2 linked regions of the Homo sapiens genome follow. The protein of the gene in region 1 interacts with the protein of each later gene in a pairwise test. Each region holds a gene or a part of one and is shown in the gene's direction. Other genes may lie near its edges.

What was found. The genes of interacting proteins can lie anywhere in the genome.
Region 2: the proteins of NCALD (region 1) and FGF6 interact in binary tests that used the Homo sapiens proteins (3 or more experiments, as listed by UniProt).

Annotation. Positions count from the first base shown.
Region 1 is NC_000008.11:101,686,020-101,689,978, reverse strand, and holds the end of NCALD (neurocalcin-delta), read left to right. Parts: intron 1-572; coding exon 573-670; 3' UTR 671-3,437; downstream 3,438-3,959. UniProt on the Homo sapiens protein: May be involved in the calcium-dependent regulation of rhodopsin phosphorylation. Binds three calcium ions.
Region 2 is NC_000012.12:4,442,808-4,450,570, reverse strand, and holds the start of FGF6 (fibroblast growth factor 6 precursor), read left to right. Parts: upstream 1-4,755; 5' UTR 4,756-5,000; coding exon 5,001-5,346; intron 5,347-6,334; coding exon 6,335-6,438; intron 6,439-7,763. UniProt on the Homo sapiens protein: Plays an important role in the regulation of cell proliferation, cell differentiation, angiogenesis and myogenesis, and is required for normal muscle regeneration.

The DNA of each region.
Region 1 (3,959 bases):
GGCACAGCTGTCTTCCCGTGGTGTATGAACAAACACTTACGTCCACGGCTTCTTCCCCAAGATAGGATGGGCTCTTGCAGCAAACCTAAGAACACAGAGTGGCCTGAAGAACACGAAGTGGCTCAGAAGGCTCCAGGGAACATTATGGGAACCAACCGGGTGCTGCCAGGGCCCAGCTCATTCTCATAAATGCAGGAGGGCCACTTGCTTTACAAATGCTGAGTGAGCCTCTCCAGGGCGCCTGGAGCCAGGAGGTCAGGGACCAAGTCAGCATCATCCACCACCCTCTCCCCAGTCCCGGGCCCAGGGCCGGGCACACAGTGGGCTCTCAGGCAGCGGCGTTTGATTGCCACATGTACTGTCCTAAGTGCTGGCAATGCCATGGTGAATGAGGCAGCAGTGTTCCTGGAGATTCCACTGGGCTCTTCCCCGGGACAGGTGAGTGCTGTGTGTCACAGTGGCAGTGAGGCTGCAGGCAGGTGAATCGACACTGCCCAGCACGCAGTAGTGGGAAGGGTGTAAGCTCATGCAGCTGCCACCAGCCACCACTCACCTGTCCTCTTGCTTCCTAGGAAAACTCTCCCTGGAAGAGTTCATCCGAGGAGCCAAAAGCGACCCGTCCATTGTGCGCCTCCTGCAGTGCGACCCGAGCAGTGCCGGCCAGTTCTGAGCCCTGCGCCCACCAATCGAATTGTAGAGCTGCTTGTGTTCCCTTTTGATTCTTCTTTTTAACAATTTTTTTTTTTTTTTGCCAAACAATATCAATGGTGATGCCGTCCCCTGTGCGGTCTGATGCGCCTTCCTCCGTGACGCCTTCAGCTTCTTTTGTCGTGGATGCTTCGTGGGAATGCCCAGAGCCCCAGTGTGCTTGTGGAGAGCATGGACAGACTTCGTGGTGTTCATTGTTTGATGATTTTTAATCGTTACTATTATTTTTTTTTATTCTAATGTCTCTGTTCTAAAACGTAAGACTCGGGGGTTGGGGCAAAAGAAGGGAAACCCATCCAGTCCTGTGATTCTATTGCAAGCTTCAAGGGGCTTTTGTTTGAAAGACAAAACTCCCCACCTGAATCTGTTGTCACACGTGCCGTAGGGGTGATGGATGGCACCGGATGCTGGATTCCCCAAGAACAAGTTACCCTCTGGGGTGAGGCTATTCCAGCGAGCTGGGACATTTCCCCATGGGGGCCCACTCCCCTCTCTTCCCCAGCAGGCTGTAGTTTCTAAGCTGTGAACATTTCAAGATAAATTAACAGAGGAGAGGAAAAAGATGGCTCAGCTATTTTTTCACAGGTTTACACTAGTTGAGCTAATATGCGTGTCTTTGGAAATTAAACACAAATGGTAACATATTCCAAAACCAGACCCATCTTGTTGCCTATTGTGATAAAATAAAAAGACGGCTGTATATAACATATTGGGTAATGCAGACCAAATTAAGTGTTTTGCCTTGTTTAAATGAAATGCATGTTTAGTGAGCACTAATACAATCTTATTCCAGAAGACTGTTTTTAGTAGCTTATTGTGAAGTAAGACAACTATAATGAATGTCTGTCTTGTTTGGAAGTCATATCTGTCTTTGCACAAATGTACCAATCGACAAGTATATTTTATATATTCCATAAAAATACAAAGTAACCCTGACTAGGGCCCAACTTTAATTTTGAATGCATTTCCAGAGTGGCCATGCCTAGAGGGCAGATGCAGAGCAGGTGGTAGTGGGACAGGACAATTGGAGCACAGGAATGTTAACATGTATGACAGGGGACCAGTAGGGTGGTTTCCCTCTCAGGCCCAGCAGCCCATTGACAGCATTAGACTGGCGGCATGGTGCTTTTCTGAGCAGATCAATACTCTGCAGACTCGAAAAAACATCACATACATTCTTGGAACTTCCCAGTGGTTTAATCTATGTGCATGGTTAGGGAGCCAGGTCTGGAATATTCAGTTTCCCTGCCCCTGTTAAAGAATCAGAGGTTGGGCAGTCATCAAATTCATCATAAAGACATGGGCAAGTGTGTCTGTGGTTTCCAAGGCCCCCCTATGGAGAATCCAAAAGTATTTTCCATTGCCGTGCTCTTTGAATGCAGACTTCTATTTCCAGAAGTGACAGCACAAGTCTGAGTTGCTGTTTGGTCTGGTGACCTCAGACACACTAATTTGAATTGAAAGCTAAGAGTAAAAATTTGCTGGTTACAGGCGAGTCATACTCTTGCAAGTAGTTAGCAAAGGGAGGCCCAAATTCTCAAGGTTGTTGATGGGGAACTTGCCACTAAGAGAAGGCAGAGAGGTCCCTAGTGGGTATATTTGCTGCCAAGCCACTTGCCAAAGAAGAGGAACCACAGAAAGAGAGACATCATGACCAGGAGAAAAATGTGACTAGACATGCTAACCTCCAGGTTTTTATATATGACTTGAGTCTGCTGTAATTGGCAGCAGAAATCCAAATTTGTATGGTAGACCAAAAAGAACCAAATCCATAGGGTGAAATTTTGAGACCTAGACTCTGTAAAAATAATCCTAGTCTTCCTCCAGGGGTCAGTTCCTCACAGTGGTTCTGTACCAAAACTTGCCAAATTCCTCCATGGCCAAGTGTTAAAATCTGTGTTTGGAAAATAGCGAATTAACCTAAGACACAGAAGGCAGACTGGGTGAGGAGACCTAGCATGCCCTATTGGCAGTGCTCAGGAGCTGCATCCCACTTTTCCCTGCTCTGAATCGAAGTCCTAGTTCCTTCCTTTGATTCTCCTTTGGTAGGTGGAATCAGTTAATGTTTTGAGAAACCTGCCTGGGCTCTGCCCTTAGTCATGACATCTCGCTGAGCCAGACCCACTCTGTTCCTTGGAACCTAGAGCTGGAGTGAGGAGTAGAGGTCTCCGGCTATTCCAGAAAGAAAAGTGAGCCACATGCAGGCTGATGAATGCCGACACTTCCAGAATGTATAGAAATAGTCCCTGTCCTGGCCTGCCACTGACCCTGTCTGTATTTTCTCGGAGGTTGTTTTTCTCCTTCTCCTTCCCAGGAAGGTCTTTGTATGTCGAATCCAGTGCACTCAAGTTTGGCCAAGGGACTCCACAGCACCCAGAAGACTGCATGCCTCAAGGTTTATGTCACTCCTCTGCTGGGCTGTTCATTGTCATTGCTGTGTTCAGGGACCTTTGGAAATAAAACCTGTTCTGTCCCAAATAAAACCAGCCTGTGATGTTCAAGGGACTGGAATAAAGTGGCTTACGACCTGAAGGATTCTACAGAGTGCTCAACTGTTCATACATCATTCAGAGTGGGAGGGAGCTGGGGGTGCTGTCCCATCCCATCTGTATGCCCACGGTGGATTTAATAATATATAATTTATAAATCATAGCCTATGGAGTGGCCCGTAAATCAGTTGACTGTGTAGCTCTTGCCTGGCATTAAAGCATGTTTTTGGTTTAACATGATTTTCATGAGATTTTCATGCCTAAACTGCTGCCCCAGCTGAATCTGTGCCTTACTGAGGCTCTAGCTTCTGATACTAGCCTCCTCCTGGGTATTTTTCCTGCCTAGAGTGACACAAGGAACCAAGGTTTGTGAGGGGGGATGAGAGAGGCTGCTGACCCCAAAGTTCTGTCCAAAGGCATCCTTGGTCTTCATATGGGCTTCCTTACATCCCTCCCTCCATGGTCTACACTTCCTTCCCATATCCTCTCCTTCCTCAAACTAGAGTCCAAATGTTAGGTACAATAAAGGGAGAAACTGAGGCAACCTCCCCTTCAATGGGATCTGGGTAAGCTTCAGGAAATAAATAACCTCTTCACCCCTCTCAGCCTGAGAAGGTTCAGTGAAAAAGATGACATGAGGCAGAGCCTACACTCTGAAAGCCAGTTCCAATCATGGTGTTGGCTGTTGCTGTCATTGGCCTTGCCTCCAGCACAGGAGGCCGTTACTGTAGAGAAAAGGAGCTGCCATCTTGCTAACTTGAG
Region 2 (7,763 bases), on another chromosome or scaffold:
GGGGCTCAGATTGAAGGGATAGATCAAGAAGCACTTTAACGCAAGAAGATGACTGCTAGTGTGGAGAGGAGAATCTTTCTCCCAGAAAACTCTGCAAATACTTGGTGACCAACCAGACCACAAAGCTGCGTGTTCAGGGGCTCCTTCCCTCCCCATTGTAGGGGTCTCTGGGAGTGGGGCAGGGTCTCCAGTCTGAACTCAAGCCAGGATTCAGACACATATAGACAATGCAGATAGGCCGGCCCCAGCAGAAGTGTATTTGTCTGAGGGGTTGAGGGGCCTCCAGAAAAATAATCCACATGGAAGGAAATGGGAATCCCACCTGATCAGCTTAACCCATAACAAGACTGAGTCCTTTGCAGGGCAAGGAGTCTGAAAAGAACTTCAAATCAGCAGATTGCCAGGGCATGAGTAGTACTGGCCAGGTATTTCCTTAATAGGTATAACATGAAGACGGGGACTAAGGTATTCTTCCTGGCTTTGAAACAGAACATAAAGCAGTTCTGGCTCCTTGAGGGCTTCAGGTGCTGAGCTATAGTGAGAAAGGGAACACCCCCGGGCTGCCCAGCAGGAGGTGGAAAGGCTGGAGAACAGGGAGATCCACGCAGGTGCCTGGCAATGTGCCCAGGCAGAAGCAGTCACATGCTCGTGAACATATGTGAGACATGCTCTGAAACTGCAGAAATATCTTGGGGGTGGTTTGTAGTGGGGTGAAGTTCCACATGAGTTGGAAGAAGCAAGAACTAGGGAAATGTGGATTATAACTGTTAATGGCTCCCACTGTGTAAGTGGGTGAGGCCTGGGAAAAGTTGAGTTCTACTAGGAAAGTACAAAGTTTAGGTTTCCCCAGGGAATAGCTAGCAAGATAATGGCTGCCTTGTCTTTGCGGAAGTCCAACCTGGACACTGTTGATCAGTTGAAACTGTTTCTCTTGAATTCTCCCTCATGTAGCAAGTTTATGAGCTGCAAATGTCCCTCTTTGCTCAGGCCTAGGGCAGGAATCCTTCCTCGATCCTCATCTCTACACATGTCCATCTCATGCCGATTAAATCCTGTGAGCAATCTCTACCACTAAAAAAACCAGGGATAGGTGCAGAGCTGCCTGTCTGAGCAAGATGGGGAGGAGATACAGGGAGGCTTCAAGGCCGCTGTGCCAAGCTCACACAAAGACAGACTTTGAGACAAAAGAGACAAAGACACTAAGCACAAACAGCTATTTTGTTTTCCACCTTATCATTTTCCACATTTTCCAAATTATCTATAGAAAAAGGCAAATGCTAGTTTTTCAAAACCAAATGTAAAAAGTACAAGTAAGCACAGCTTTTCACAATCTACGTGGATGAGGCTCATCTGAGTTTTATGTGCTTTCCCTTTTGGTCACCCATCAGGCATTTGATCCTGATTATGTAACACACAGCAGTCACAGAGAGCAACCACCTGATGTGACGGAGGGAGTTCTGCCATGCAGATGATGCGGAAGGTTGGTGTGGCTAAGCATTGCCAAATCTGACAAATCTGTATTTTGTGGTATCCCCCTTGGGGACAAGGACCCTGTTGTGGGAGGAGATAGACATTAACGTATTTTCCCACTCACCTCCACTGGATCTTGGCTCATCCAGCGAGAGTGATTGACAATCCCCAAAGGCTGTTGGCCAACTATTTGCAAGAGGGGTCCATGGAGAGAGGCCTCTTCCACCTGTTACTCTTTTCTCTATCACTTCACATCCATAGGGGTCCCTAAGCCCCAAGAGAAGGGTCAAGTGCAAATCTGGTAAGCCAAGAAGACCTAGCAGTTGTCAACCTAATTAGCCTTCAGGAAAAATATATGGCTATATGAGCACAGTAAAGTTGCTATAGAGACAGGCAGGGGAGGTACATTCAGAACAGGGCCTCATCGCATCACCCGATAAAAATAAGACCCAGGCTTTTTAATAGCATGAATTACTTAAGTTTTAAATTTAACAGGGGACGACACCAAGGCTCTCACTGGTTTTCAGAACATTTGAGGAATCTGGGCTGCCTGCTTCTGCATATGTTAGCAGCCATCACAACATATGCTGTGGCGGATGGCAATGAAGAACTGGAAGCCCACGTGTCTCTCCCACACCGTGAGATGAGAGATGGTCTTTCTCACTTTGGGTTTGTCCTCTTTAATTGGGTGAGAGATTTTCAATGTGTTTCAGGGAAATTTCTGGGAAATAGCTATACTGCGCTCTGCACTGGCCAGTTGTATGTATTATTGCTAGTCACTGTAACAACCTTAGGAAGTAATGATATCATTTTGCAGATGACAAAATAAGCTCAGAGAGGTCCAGAACTTTCCTAAGGTCACACAGCTACTAAATGGTGGAGTTGAGATTCAAATCCAGGTGTCCCCATTCCAAAGCCCATTGCTTTATGAGACATCAACCAGAACCTCTGCACAGAGAGGAATCCAGGAAGAGATGAATCTAAGGAGCGTTACCATTTTTATTGGTATATGACATGGACCTTGTTATAGTTTAATCTCTCTCCTAAGGCAGTCCCAAAGTGGATGGGTTCCAAGAAATTCCACAGAGATTCTGAGCTCTGCTGGTGAGCACCTCTCCGATTATCCAAGGCAAGTGTTAACTTCAGACTGACTTCTCCTTACCATCCAACATGTTTCTGGACTGTCTCTTCCCTAAGTGAGGACCACCAGCATAATTAACACAAGATTCCAAACAACATCACTGAGAAAGTGTCCCCACTGCTCTTGCATCCATGAAAGCTTAACTATATGAAACCCAGCTGGAAATCCAAAGTGAAGTTCTTTTTGTTGACAACTTTGTCTTCGGATTATTCATGAACCTTTTACTTTGCAGAAGGATTTTTAAAAACAGTTTTCCAACAAAGGCCTACATAGTAGACTCAATCTGAGCCTATAAGGCATCATCTTTCCTCATGGGAAATGGCAGTGCTGGTGATGATGAGATTGGGTATGGGACAACGGCAGTGGAAGGGAGAGGAAGCCAATGGGGAAGTCAGGGGGCCGTGGTGACAGTAGGAACAAGTGGTGCCTATGTCCCTCCCCATTCAGTTTACCAGCTGAGGGTAAAGACAGACATCTGGGCTTCACAGGATTTCAGAAGGCATGTCTAGGGCAACACTAAACACATGGCTTGACAGAAATTTGAACCAAAGCATCGAACCCAGTGAACGAGGCAGAAGGGCAGAGAGAAGGCAGGTAGAAGCCACAGACCAGAGGCTGGGACCCAGGGCACAGCAGAAGGTTTAGAATCAGAGGGAAGGCGGTGGTGCCTCAGTAGAGTCCTTGGGCCATGGAACTCACCCCAGGAGCTTTTCCAGGCTGCCTGCAGCCTGCAATGTGGGTGTAGAGTGTGGCTAAGGGAGCTGCCTGCTGGGACCAGCTCTACTGCTCAGGACACTCAAATCCATCTGTATGCCACTGTCATCACCCCACACATACTCTCTCCAATCCCGGCAAAATCAGTGCTAATGTCTCACCAACAGATTAAGGCCTGGATTGAAGTACAAGAAACAGGATTTTTAACTCAAGTTAATTCAATTCCCCAGCGACCCTTGTTAACTTATTCACCCTCAGAGACGTATTAATAGTTCTGTCTTATATTGTATAGAAATTTGTGCAGTGAGTTTTCTGGTAGCTTTACATTTTTTTTCTCACTTCAGTTAGACATGTAATCTATTTAAAAGTAATATGGGAATAAGATAAATCAGTGTAGGAATAACTTCCTGGCAGAAATATTTTTACTAGTTTCTGAGTGTAATATCAGCCCAGCAAAAGTTATCTGCAAATATAGAAGTTCTCATGTACATCAAAGACACTCAAGTTTTTTTTAAGAAATAAATCATTTTATGCTACTGAAATAACTCTGTGATGTGCTATTGGCATTTAAGGAGCTAAACAGACTCTATGGGCCAGCCAACTTCTACTGCAAGCATTAGACATGCACAGGCTTTAGACTCAGGCACACCTTAGAAGTTCTGGCTTTGCTACTTATTAGCTATGGTAACTCGGGCAGGTCATTTATCCTCTCTAAGCCTCAACTTCCTCATCTGTGAAATGGGAATAATATCAGTCACATGCCAGGGATAAATCCAGGGAGAATGGCCAGGGGGCTGTGTCAAAGGCCAGACACAACTTCCACCCCAGGTGAATGTCGGGACCAGGACAGTGAGCAGGCAAACCTTGCCCTTGCCCTCCTTCCCTCCACAATCTTAAAGCTCCTTGAACAACCCCCATCCCCACCCCCTGAGAATGTCTGTGCCCTCCTGCTGAAAGGGTTTGGCCTTTCAGTGTTCCCCTCCACCATGAGCTGTTTCCATGAAAAGATCTCAAGGGTGACTTGAGGCTACGGTCATCACTACCACAAGCCTTTTCCCATCCCTGCCTCTACCTATTGCCCTCTAAATAAGGAAGCCAGCGCTGCCAGGCAAAGAACTTCTGCCCAATATGGGTCCTGGGTGGCCTCTCGCCTCTCTCTTTCCCTGGGCCCCCAGCCAGCTCCCCCCTCCCCCAGAGATGCTCCCTGCTCACTTCATTCCTGCCTCATAGTTGGAATGACAGTGGCTCCCAGAACCCCTGGGGAGTGTGGAGGGTGATGGGGGTCTGGGGAGGCAGCCAGGCCCAAGAGCAGGTTAATGTTACAGCCCTGGATAAGTGAGCTGGGCGGGTTGACGTCAGGGCGATGATGGGTGGAGGGGAGGGCCGGGCTGCTGAAGCAACTATAAAGATAGGTCAAATCAAATATCATCAACTAGGGACGGAGCAAGCGGGCGAGCTAGAGAGCGTCCCCGAGCCATGGTCTCTACCGGCCGCGGCTCAGCCTGGGTCCCTCTGCTCTCAACCCGAGTGCCCGATGGAGGCTTTGGTTTCATGTCAGCAGCCTTCATCTGCCTTCCAAAAATAAGCCCCTGCCGCCATGCCGGAGGGAGAAAAACAAGAAGGGCGGTATTTTTAGGGCCATTAATTCTGACCACGTGCCTGAGAGGCAAGGTGGATGGCCCTGGGACAGAAACTGTTCATCACTATGTCCCGGGGAGCAGGACGTCTGCAGGGCACGCTGTGGGCTCTCGTCTTCCTAGGCATCCTAGTGGGCATGGTGGTGCCCTCGCCTGCAGGCACCCGTGCCAACAACACGCTGCTGGACTCGAGGGGCTGGGGCACCCTGCTGTCCAGGTCTCGCGCCGGGCTAGCTGGAGAGATTGCCGGGGTGAACTGGGAAAGTGGCTATTTGGTGGGGATCAAGCGGCAGCGGAGGCTCTACTGCAACGTGGGCATCGGCTTTCACCTCCAGGTGCTCCCCGACGGCCGGATCAGCGGGACCCACGAGGAGAACCCCTACAGTGAGTGCCAGCTGCAGCCAGTCGGGACGCTTGGGGGTTTGGGCTCATGCAGGGCTAAAAGGTGAAGGGGCCCTGCTCTAGCGGACAGGATGCACGATAAAGGGGGCAGAAATGCTGCTCACCACTTAGATGATTCCACGTGACCCTGCCTGGGTGCAAGCTCAATATACTGCGGTCCAAGCATCCTGGTGTTCTTTGCCATCGCCTTGGTTAGATCCTCAGTGGCACTAACTATTTCAGCATTACTGGCCCATCTGATGCCTTGTAAGACCATTAGGAACCATTAGTCTGGGAAGCCCCCAAGGCCTGGGTAGGGAGAATCAGTTAGTATACTTGGATCAAATTTGACACAAGCTCATTTTTATTCAGCTTCTTTCTTGGAGAAGGAAGGGAAATTCAATTGCAAAATGTCCAACTGAAGCACATCCTTCTTTTTATTTCAGCGGCTCCCTCTGTCCCCAGGTTCTTATCCTGCAAGCTGCCTGCAAGCTGCCAGCTTGCTGTATGGTTAGTCTCCTATCCAAGAAAGGATGGGGGCTGCAGGATCCAAGAAAGCCATCAGCTATGGTGTGGCTGCTGTGTTTTCAAGATTAAGTGGGTTGAGATTTGTTGAAACATGTAGAGTACACATTAAGAAGAAGAAGAAGAATCAGAATTTATTTTTTTACTCAAGTCAAGGACCTCAAGTAATTATGTCACTGAAAGCCCAGATTCAAAGCTCATCTTAAACAGATAGCTAAGTGGTCACTGCAGCCCCTAACTCTGCTATCAGAACCTTCCCTTGCAGAACTGGATTTCTAACAGCACAATGGCAGCACTCGATGAGTCCAGCAGCCAGGGTCTCCTAGAGTTAGAGGGATCATGGATGGGGCAATGGAGAGTCTGGCTTTCTAGGAGAAGGGGGATGGACTGAGATGCCCTTGTCGGCTCAAGTTCCCACTCTGATTTGCACAAGCCTTAGGTAATGTGGCCCCCCTTTCCTTGTCAGGCCTGCTGGAAATTTCCACTGTGGAGCGAGGCGTGGTGAGTCTCTTTGGAGTGAGAAGTGCCCTCTTCGTTGCCATGAACAGTAAAGGAAGATTGTACGCAACGGTGAGTTCACCAGGCCGGGGAAGTGCCAGGTTTACAAGGCTTGATGCTTACACAGTTGAAGAAAATAATATGAAGTCCTGAGTAGAGAAGTGACTATCTAAATGGGAAAGGAAAGGCTGTGAGAGGAGCCTGTGAAAGGGAGGGGCCTTGCAGCTTGTGCTTCTTCAGCCTCACGGGTGATTGTCCTCTGCCCTGGCCCGTGCTTCTTCTGTTCCCACCTGCCGGCCGGAGCCCGTGTGCTTAAACGGAAACCACAGCTCAGGGAGCCCGTGGGCCAGAGGGAAACCCACATTCTGGCATCCAGGCTTGTGAGCAGGTGTGATTCCCTGCACTGGCGAGGCCCCGAGAGCAAGTCTGTCTCTCTGCCTGGGTGCGCTGCTCCATGACACGCGCCCTGCAAGATGCCCCAGCCTCGTGCGCAGCAGGAGGAGTGGAATGGGAGGCTATTTTCATCCTCATCAGTGTGCTGAGATTCTGCACTAGGGTTTTCAATCCTCTGGTCTCCGATCACGTACGCTAGAGAAGCAGCCTACCCGTTATACACTTTAGGCTGGTACCAGTCCCACCCATTCCCATCCCCACCCCCATAGGTCACCTCTGGGAGTGCCAATGCTGGCACTTGGGTTAATGCAACCAGCTTCTAAGCACATTGACGAAAACCTCTGCTCTCACTGACCTACTCTTTCCTGCAGCCCTCGGCCCATCATTTGGCTTATTCCAAAATATGGCGGGGCAAACATCCCGATGAGGCTGAAGAAATGGAGAGTTCCTTTGACAGAAATAAGCAAGCTAAAAAGGAAGACCTCAGAGCAGGCCTCAAAAAATATCAAAGTTATTTATGGGGAGGGTGTGGAGAGCTGATCTACTGCCCCTTGGAGGATAAACTGAGGACTGGGATGTGAAGAAATAGATCCAGGACTGGCACTGGGTCCCAGGGGAGCTGTCCCAACAGAGGAGGTCTATGAAATACAAGAACGGGTTCACCAGGTGGCCTCCACCCCATAATCTTTAGTGCTAACATCTCTCAGTCTGGGTTGGTTTATGTGGACATACGGCATGCACTACAATCAGTGGGTCTCCCACACGGGTCTGTGGACAGTTTGCATCTCTGTCACCTTGGAAACTTATTAAAAGTATGGATTTCCAGGTACCTACCTAGGAGATTCTTATTCAGCAGAGCTGGCGTGTGGGCCTGGAAATCCATTTGTTTTTGTATTTTAAATTTGCCAGGTGTTTCTGAGGAACAGGCAGGCTTGGGGGTCAGCAGGCTACATGGCCTCTGGAGGGCAGGGGACCACCCACTCCCCATGTTACACTGAACCTGA